Regions from separate parts of the Homo sapiens genome. Here region 2 is linked to region 1. A link means that fine-mapping ties the variant in region 1 to the expression of a gene that starts in the linked region. Tissue or cell type: lung. Region 1 holds a variant in brackets; the other region holds the start of a gene. All regions are shown on one strand. Distances are from middle to middle.

Region 1 (5,000 bases):
CCCAGGCAGCATTTAATTCTACATTGGTCTGAATCCAAGGACAATAAAGTGGCTCCCTTTCAAGAAGCTGGTGCTTATAAACTGTTTGTTGTTTGGACTGCATTCTGCCTGCTGTGCCCATAATGAGGCAAAAAGCAGCAACATCACTTGCCTTATACATGGAGAACTCCCTGGTGTGCCGAGAAGATCTACAATAACCTCTTACATATGAATGTCTAAGTGGTCTCCCTCAACAGTGAATAAATGTCTGGAGGTCATTACGTTAATAAAATTCTTTCTATAACTTTGTGTTTTATAGAAACTGACAATTCAGTCATCATTTCAGTTTTGACAGGTAAACACCGTGGTCCAACTTACAAGAGCATAATGTGACTGCCATCCCCTCAGCTATCCCTGATTGCAATGGGAATGATCTAAAAACATCCTGACTTTTTTCACCTCGTAATAGCTTTATTACAATGAAATTCATTGCCATACACTTTTGCATCATAAAACTAGATAGTCATTTACTATATCTATAAAGGTAGTTTATCTGGAGAATATGTTTTTATGAATACACAAACTATGAAATACTTCCTTACTTTGGAAAATTCAAGAGCCTTGGACATGACATTACAATCTTGTGAGCATTCATAAACCTGTAAAAATGATGGCAATGTGAAGTATGCCTGCCATGGTCAGCAGTCTCAATAACAAGATTCATTATTAAAACACTTCTCTTGGCTGGGCGCGGTGGCTCACGCCCGTAATCTCAGCACTTTGGGAGGCCGAGGCAGGCAGATCACTTGAGGTCAGGAGTTCACGACCAGCCTAGCCAACATGGTGAAACCCTGTCTCTACTAAAAATACAAAAATTAGCCGGGCATGGTGGCACATGCCTGTAATCTCAGCTCCTCAGGAGGCTGAGGCAGGAGAATTGCTTGAGCCCGGGTGGTGGAGGTTGCAGTGAACCAAGATTGCGCCGTTGCACTCCAGCCAGCCTGGACAAGCGAGACCTTGTCTCAAAAAAAAAAAAAAAGCACACTTCTCTTTAAAATGGTATTATCCTAAATGCAACGTAGTACCCTGAACTGGACCCTAGAACATAAAAGAGACATTAGTGGTAAAACATGAGGTATTTGAATAAAGTGTATAGTTTAGTCAATAGCATTGTACTAATATTAATTTTTTAGTTTTAACCAAGTTGTGTTATGTAAGATGTTAATATTAAGGAAGATGGGTGAAGGGTGTGTAGAAATTATATCTGTGACTTTGCTGAAATCTAAAATTATTCCAAAATGAAATTTTTTAAAAATGGTATTATCTACATCAGTGCTTCTCAACCAGGGGCAGTTTTGTCCCCCAGGGGACATCTGGAAATCACTAGGGACATCTTTGGTTTTTACAACTGCAGAATGTTATTGACATAGGAGGATGCTACTGTTGGGTAGAGACCAGGGATGCTGCTAAGCACCCTGCAATGCACAGAAGAGGCTCCCATAGCAAAGAATTATTAGACCTAAAATTCCAATAGCGTTGAGGTTGAGAAGCCTTAATCTAGATGTACCAAAACTTAAGGTCAATGATCAAGCCATGTAAATTAGTTCTGCACTGTGGTTAAAAATTTACTTTAGGACAAATCCTGAAATTTTAGATTTTAAAAGTTTGCTTAAACTATTATAATGTCAAGCCGGGCGCAGTGGCTCACGCCTGTAATCCCAGTACTTTGGGAGGCCGAGGCGGGCGGATCATGAGGTCAGGAGATCGGGACCATCCTGACTAACATGGTGAAACCCCGTCTCTGCTAAAAATACAAAAAAAAATTAGCCGGGCATGGTGGCGAGCACCTGTAGTCCCAGCTACTCAGGAGGCTGAGGCAGGAGAATGGTGTGAACCCGGGAGGCAGAACTTGCAGTGAGCTGAGATTGTGCCGCTGCACTCCAGCCTGGGTGACAGAACGAGACTGCATCTCAAAAAAAAAAAATGTATTATAATGTCTTTGTGGAAAAAAAAAAAAACGATAGAATTACCTAGCCCAAAGAATTTTTGCATTTAAGAAGAACATAGCTTTGTTGCCTTTACAGCTTGGTTAACCAAGTAAACACACTCTTAAGGCCCACCGAAAGTATGTGCTTTTGCTATTTTAAAAGCAAATTTATTCCCATCAAGACTAACTACGGGGACAGTAGGGGAAAGTGAGGAATTAATGTTTAATGGATATAGAGCTTCAGTTTGGAAAGATGAAAAAAAATGTGGTGATGGTTGCACAACAATGGGAATTACTTAATGCCACTGAACATACATTTAAAAATGGATAAAATGGTAAATGTTATGTTATGTATGCTTTATTATAATAAAAAAAAAGACTAAATACTAGAACAGCCAACATTTTAAAACATCAACTTTGGAAGCTGGTAAGTCTTGGATTTTTTTGTTTGTTATAGGC[T/C]TAGAAGTAGTTACTGTTATTCACATCTTCAGAAAAACACACAGATCTGAAAAACATCCTTAATTAAAACCCACTTTAATAGAATTTTCTACTGGGTAAATGAAACTTCATACCAAACTGTGCTGTAAAATAGCTGAAGTAGCATTTTAGACAGACTAGTCTACAATCTCATTTGAACCAAAAGTGCAACCTCATCAACTGTATATTGTTCTCTTTCATTTTTAGAATTGTAAGTACTGGTCCATGACTTTAAATATTCCAAGTAAACTCATGTTTATACTTCAGTGTTTACAGAACACAAAACAACTGTCCTCTGAGATGGAGCTTTGATAACTTAACAGCACATCAGGACAGGCAGGGAGGGCACTCCAAGGACGTGTGTCTTGCCTATTGTTCTGCCTCTCATCCACTTCACATCACAGCCCATATCTACCATCAGTATCTGAGTGCTCCATACCCTGTCGCATGGAGAACTTAGTTAGAAACATCTAATTCACCTCACACCATCACCTGTGAAATCTAGTACTTCATCCTCACTATTAAAAATAAATTTCAGCGTTTAATTAAAAATCACATACTAGAGAGATAATATCACATAAAATAGTATGCAAGTGAGTTTTTCTTCATTCTCATTTTTGTTACAAATACAATATTTTCCATTTATTTAAAAAATGTAAACAAAGAATAAATAAGGGGTTATTGTCAAACAAATCTATCTCATCTAAAATTACCTCTAAAAAGAAATAATTTGGCTTTCTAAATCCTTTCTACCTTAGGTTCTTAAAAGACCATTTTAATTTTCTTGGTGTTAAAATACTGGATTTTTGGGTTTCCACATTAAGAACAATTTCATGAATCACAACACTTTTCCTTCAATAATGTCTGCTTTAAAGTGTTAAATGAAAATGCTTTCTAAATTTTCAATTTCAGAAATACTGATAAACTCTTTGAAAGCCCAAAAATGAAACATACAGAACTTTAAATAAATTATGATCTCAACTCTGTACTTATGAAAAATGCAGGGGAAAAAAATCTAGAGGAAACAAACAAACAAACAAAAAACAGATTTTAAAAATCCTTTATTGTCTTGGCACCATAACAGATATAAAGCTAATCTTTCACAAGGATGATTTAAGTTAAAAGTTTCAGAATCACCAGGCTATCCTTGCCTTTCCTTGCTTTCATGAGTCTTTCTGTGCCATGTGAAGAAAATCTGTTACTCAGTCTACAAACTGACCCTATCTTAAGGAGCAAGAATGGAGGGAATGACTCACAGCTATGGTGATACAGTACCATGAAGGTCGCCACAAGGACTCTCACTTGCCTGGGTACAAGTGTCCTTGGATAGACATGGAAGCCACTCACCTTTTTGTACACAGCGGGCATTCTTCATCTCAGGACTCCACTTAAGGCTGGAGCCACAGAGAAATGCTGAAGGACCTTCTAAGGACATGCCACCTGAACAGGAAACAGTCACCTTCTCACCAACTGTGTAGAAAGGTTTTTGGGGGTGACTCTGTATGCCATCCATCAGTACAGGTAGAACACAGGCAATTTCTAAAGATAAAAGAGAGCAAAATATAAGGGTCGTTGCTCTCCTAAACCATCTTTTTAAAAAAGTCTTATGTGATGCAGACACACTTGTTCTGCTTTTTCATATTAGAGGACAAGGAGGAAGACGTAAGTTCACTGTTAGGGTGGACTGAAAGACATGTCACACAGAGCCTGGCACGTAATTGACCCATGAATATCTAAAAACCAAAACAGCTCCCCCTCTCCCACCCCTCCCCTCAAAACAATGTGACAACTTAAAATGAACAACCCCAATAGAGTCCTAATGCCCAGCCTACTGTTGAAACCAAACTTTTCACAGCTGTCACTTATTTATGTGCTCTAGTGATGTTCCACCAGGAGAGTTTCATTAACTTTCATCCAGTTGGATATTTTGCCGTCTGAAATTATTAAAACACCACTTTTATTTATTTATTTATTTTTATTTTTTAGGGACAGGGTCTGTCTTGTTGCCCAGGCTGGAGAGCAGTGATTATTCATAGGTCTAATCAGTGTATACTACAGCCTCAAATTCCTGGGCTCAGAAAAGCAATGGGGAAAGGATTTCCTGTTTAATAAATGGTGATGGGAAAACCGGCAAGCCATATGCAGAAAACAGAAACTGGACCCCTTCCTTATACCTTATACAAAAATTAACTCAAGATGGATTAAAGACTTAAATGTAAAACCTAAAACCATAAAAACCCTAGAAGAAAACCTATGCAATACCATTCAGGACATAAGCATGGGCAAAGACTTCATGACTAAAACACCAAAAACAATTGCAACAAAAACCAAAATTGACAAATGGGATCTAATTAAACTAAAGAGCTTCTGCTCAGCAAAAGAAACTATCATCAGAGTAAACAGGCAACCTACAGAATGGGAGACAATGTTTGTAATCTATCTATCTGACAAAGGGCTAATATCCAGAATCTACAGGGAACTTAAACAAATTTACAACAGAAAAACAAGCAACCCCATCAAAAAGTGGGCAAAGGATATGAACAGACATTTCTCAAAA
Region 2 (5,000 bases), 97 kb before region 1:
TCATTCTCAGCAAACTATCGCAAGGACAAAAAACCAAACACCGCATGTTCTCACTCATAGGTGGGAATTGAACAATGAGAACACATGGACAAAGGAAGGGGAACATCACACACTGAGGACTGTTGGGGGGTGGGGGGAGTGGGAAAGGATAGCATTAGGAGATATACCTAATGCTAAATGACGAGTTAATGGGTGCAGCACACAAACATGGCACATGTATACATATGTAACAAAACTGCACGTTGTGCACATGTACCCTAGAACTTAAAGTATAATAATAATAAAATTTTTAAAAAAGAAATTAGGCTTATCTCATGAAACTGACAAATCAAACAAAACACAGCCTAATTTCACTTTTAATATATTTTATAAAAATCTAACACGTCATCTGAAGAATAAAAGGATAAATATCAAAGTTTAGATTAATTGTAGTATACATTAAAATCATCTACAATTAAACTATTAAAACCATAAAATTTAAATTTTTATAACGTTTCTGTATTATTTCTATGTATCTATTCTTCTTTAGCTTTATATTTTACCTTTACTGCCTTATTAATATTTTTGTCTGATAACATCATGTGGGAACATAGTAGGCCTGGGATTGGGTAGCTTCATTTGACAAGTTACATTGAAAGGGGATGGCTACCACATATCCAGTGAGACACTCTAATTCCTTAGCAGGCTAGATTTAGGCTCCCTCACAAATATCTAGAAACAGTACTTAATTAGTTAGCACATGCCATCCTATTCACTTTGAGAATTCGTGTTTAGGATCCTCTTAGAGTCTTAGAGAAATCAAATCCATATTGTGTTAGCCTCATGCAATGAGAAGAGGAAGAAATAATGGGAAGATGTAACAAGCAGGCGACTGAAAAATGAAATAAAATGACAGCAAATCAGCTATTTTGAGGATTTGGGGATTTTAAAACTATCTGCAGTATTGGTTTCAATGAGTGAATTTACTTTGTCTGAAAGGATTTTAGCAAAAAGTTGTGTTTTGATTGCAGCGATGAATAAATTAAAAGTCAAAATAAATCAATTATCTCCTAACTTCTCTAATCTCTATGAAATCAAGGAAGTCTTTATATACAGACATACAGAAAAATCATTTGTCACCATTCACAAAAATATTAAGAAAATGGTTGTAACAATTACCTAAATGGCTAGCTTTCTTATTATTGATTCTGCTGTACATTGTTTTTTAAGACTCTAAGAGCACATAATTTCTAACATCATTTTTTCCCTTATAGGGAATCTGTTGTTTTATTTACTACAAGTAGACTTAACATCTTATAGATGTTAAGAGTTTCGGGATGCCTCTAATCACCCCAGTACCTCCCTGACTAACCAAACTTGGCCTATTCTTCAGTGAGTCATGATGCTGGGGAAGAGCTCCTTGCCCAACCACAACAAACATTCTTCAGTTAACTGCTATTTACTGATCCACTAATGAATGTTTGGGCAAGGACCTTGGTCAGTGCTTTTCAAAGTTCAGTGAACCTAAGAATCACCAGGGGCGCACATTAAATATATAGATTGCTGCCCCCTCATTCTAATTTACTGGGTCTGAAGTGGGGCCTGGGAATTCACATTTTAAATAAGGATACCAAGTAAATCCCATGATAAAGTCACCTGGAGACAAAACTCTGAAAGTGATGCTGACTTGGGAAGCGGAAAATGTTGAGGATCTCTTTAATACAGTGCAAAATGTCTATGAGAAGAATGATGAATTCAAAGGTTTAGTTGGAAGCAGTTGACCTTTGAATCTGGAATAAGCTTCACCGATGAAGTTAAGATGGCCAAAAAAGCAGCAGCAGATGAAAATTGTCATGAGCTCCCCTCCTCAGCCCATTCTACATTTAGCCCTATAGACTAGCAGTACTGCCTTCCCTTTCTCTATCATCCTCCATATTCACATAGAGTCTGGACATATATTGAAGATTGTCATCACATAGATTTATAGTTGGGGACCAGATTTCAATTCATGCTAGATAAGTTGAAAACATTATGGAAAATTGATCTAGATAAAAAATAATTTGAAAACAAAAAGAAAGCTGAAGACAGAGAAAAAGCCTGAGCCTGGAGTGAGGCCAAGATCCTGAACATGCCAGGGAGGAATTAATGGAGAGGGAGGTAGAGAGGTCTTCACTTTGCTGCTGTCAGTTGGACATTCCATCCAACTGCCCCTGAAGTGCATTCCAGTCCACTGAGCATGCTCAGTTCATATGACTGATTTTCACTAAGTGTAACAATCAACGAGTTCACCATAAAGCCTTTCCCAACATCAGGACAGTAAAGCAACTACTGAAAACCATTCCTGAATTTGTGATCAATGGACTCAAGTTTAGGGAGAGGAGCACCTTTGGTCTGCAACAATGGTTTGAATCCCAGTCTCTAATTACTTCTTTCCCAAATACTCTGGTCACCAAAGGGACAATATTTGGTGAGATGCAGCCATTTTGTTGGTTAGCAGGAGTTCAGACGCAAGACAATGTCATAGTGGTAGAATACAGTATCAACTTCAACAGCAAGCCCATCTCTGGAAGCTCCCAGACCATTGTGCCAATCAAGTGGAGGAGGCACTTTCATTTAGAGAGGCTTATGTGAACCTTATATGAGAAACTTGCCAACCTGCCTCTTTGATTTTTTAGCCTTACTATTTCTAATACTTAGGTGCTATCTTTTAGAGACCCTGAAACAGCCAAGACATGACACTTAGTACAGAGGAATCCATAGGTAAGCATCATCAGATCCTGAGAAGCCAAGGCTCTTCCCTGTGTTTTGTTTCTGTGGAATTATAAGTATATATGAGGGCTGGGAGTGGCGCGTCATTGTGGGAGGACTGTACACCTCAAAGGATTTATGAAATGGTATGCTAAATACATAATAAAATCATGCTGATTGTGAAGGACCAATAATAGACTGGAAGCCTAAGAGATGGTTGTGCTTTAAAATTTAGAGTCTACCTGAGGAGAAAGTGGCTACATATCAAAGAAAGGCAGTTTGTTATTTAATTTTAAATACTAGAAGAGTCCTTTGGAAGTATTTCTCCCAATTTCCAGGTATGGCTGCCTTTCTACTTTGCCAAAAAGATTGCCCTAAATGAGTATGTTGTTTGGTGTGGAGGTTAATAAGAAATCTTCATCTCCAAAAGTATTTCTCCTACCAACTTGCCATGTAGCTTGAAATTGCTCAATTCCTTTGACTCAATTTTTTTTCCAGTTTTCTAGAGTGCTTTATTCAAAAACATATATTCCTAGAAAATGCAAGTCAAACACATTTAGGTCATTGTCAGAAAACAGGAAGCCTTCATTAGCATGTGACCAAAAGAGGGAGTTGGCAGGCACAGGAGAATAGGTGGAGTTGAAAAGGGTATGGAAAAAGAAGATGGGAGAGGTATTGAGGGGAGGACCAGTGAAAAATAAACAGCTATGTTGCACCCCTGCCTTCTAATGCTTAAGTCAGGAGTGAGAAATTCACCTCATTGACTCTGAGAGCTAAATCCTGCAAGAGAGAATTTACAAGGCAATGCCCACTTGCCTGGAGGGATACATAGGAATCCGGCATCTTTTATCTTCCCTTTCACATTTGATTCAGGTTTCAAAAATAATAATAACTTAGCATCTGCTAGTTTCATTTATGTCATGGATATGAATAAAACAGTTCCTGCCATCAAAGAGCTAGCAGTCAAGGGAGAGAGAGAGAGAGAGGATAAATGAATGAATGAACTTTCTGTGTTGATTACAAAATAATTAACAGGAGGGCATTTCAGCATATATTTCAATTCATATTTTTCTGTACGTTTTAGAGATGTTTGGGGATATTAACCTCACTCTTGGCATGCTGAACAAGGAAGATATTGTTAACAAGGTAGGGAAAACAGAGAAAAATCTTTTTCCCTTTTTCAGTCTTCTTGTTGCAACATTTCGTATATATTTTTCTTTGTCTCAACTTTCTCATTTTTCTCTGGCTTGTTACATGGCATTAGATTTTTCAGTAAATGCAGTTGTAATGAAAGTCATTGTAATGTTTAAGCAATGATATTTGGCATTTCAAGAATCACAGCATCTATGTCTAGAAAATAGCAAAAAAAAAGTTCCTTTTTATAACTTTATACAGGCAGATGTTGAAAGGTGTATGTCAGACTTACAAACATGTGGATGAGACTGTTTCTTTTATAATTTGAGGGTTGTTACAAAAATCCCAAAAGCTCTTCCCTGCTCATCTATAATGCTATTTCACAGCTAGAAGTTTACCTAAGAATTGAAGGCTTTTCACATTTCAACAACCTTTTATAAAATAAAAGAAATAACTGCCCTTCATCGAACACTTATCTGGGAAGTAAAATGCTAGATATTTTCCAAACAACAGTGTATTGTATAATATTCACTCCTCAGAACAATTTTATCAGGTAGTTATTGCTATTTCCATTTGATAACTGAGAAAAAATTAGGCAGAGAGAAGTTACATGACTTGCTCAACTAAGAACAACAGGACTATATCCAAAAGCAAGCCCATCTGACTCCAAAAAAAAATGTTCCTAATCATTATTCAGTGTTGTCTCCTTGTGAAGGGCAGTGCCTATACCTTTATCTCTTAATTCAGTGGTTCTCAACCCTGACCATATATTAGAATCCCTTAGAGAGTTTTGGGAAAATATCAACACCCAGGCCCTACTACCAGGGATTCTGATTGGATCAGTCTGTGAAAAGCTTGGGCATTTTAAGCACCTGGAGGTAATCCAAACATTTAGGTACGGTTGAAAACCATTACATTAATCTCTCAGTAGAAGTCACCTTTCCGAAAGAACACTATTTCTCAAACATTGGGAATCACTTAAGAGAATAACCTCCGGATCCCAGAAACATTGAAGGAGAATTTCCAGTAAAGGGATCAGAGAATATATATTTTTAACAAGCACTTCCTAGTTATTTTATGATGAGTCTAGTTAAAGAATAATAATAGCCAGCATAACCAAGAGGTTAAGGTGCCAGCTA

Evidence for each region. PIP is the estimated chance that this variant, and not a neighbour inherited with it, causes the effect. A credible set is the group of variants that fine-mapping cannot tell apart.
Region 2: MROH2B starts here. The variant in region 1 is the best candidate, but not a certain one, in a credible set for the expression of MROH2B in lung (GTEx, PIP 0.69).

The regions. Positions count from the first base shown.
Region 1 is chr5:40,971,385-40,976,384 of GRCh38, reverse strand. C7 (complement C7) reads right to left here. Exons shown (of 18, transcript NM_000587.4): 15 at 3,791-3,982. Among named protein-coding and RNA genes, the nearest start is that of C7, 64 kb to the right of the region's middle. The variant T/C (reference allele first, on the strand shown) is at 2,426.
Region 2 is chr5:41,068,564-41,073,563 of GRCh38, reverse strand. MROH2B (maestro heat like repeat family member 2B) reads left to right here and starts at 2,222. Exons shown (of 42, transcript NM_173489.5): 1 at 2,222-2,739; 2 at 3,812-3,873. The coding sequence starts at 2,712. LOC105374739 (a long non-coding RNA gene) reads right to left here and starts at 2,207. Exons shown (of 6, transcript XR_001742650.2): 1 at 1,636-2,207.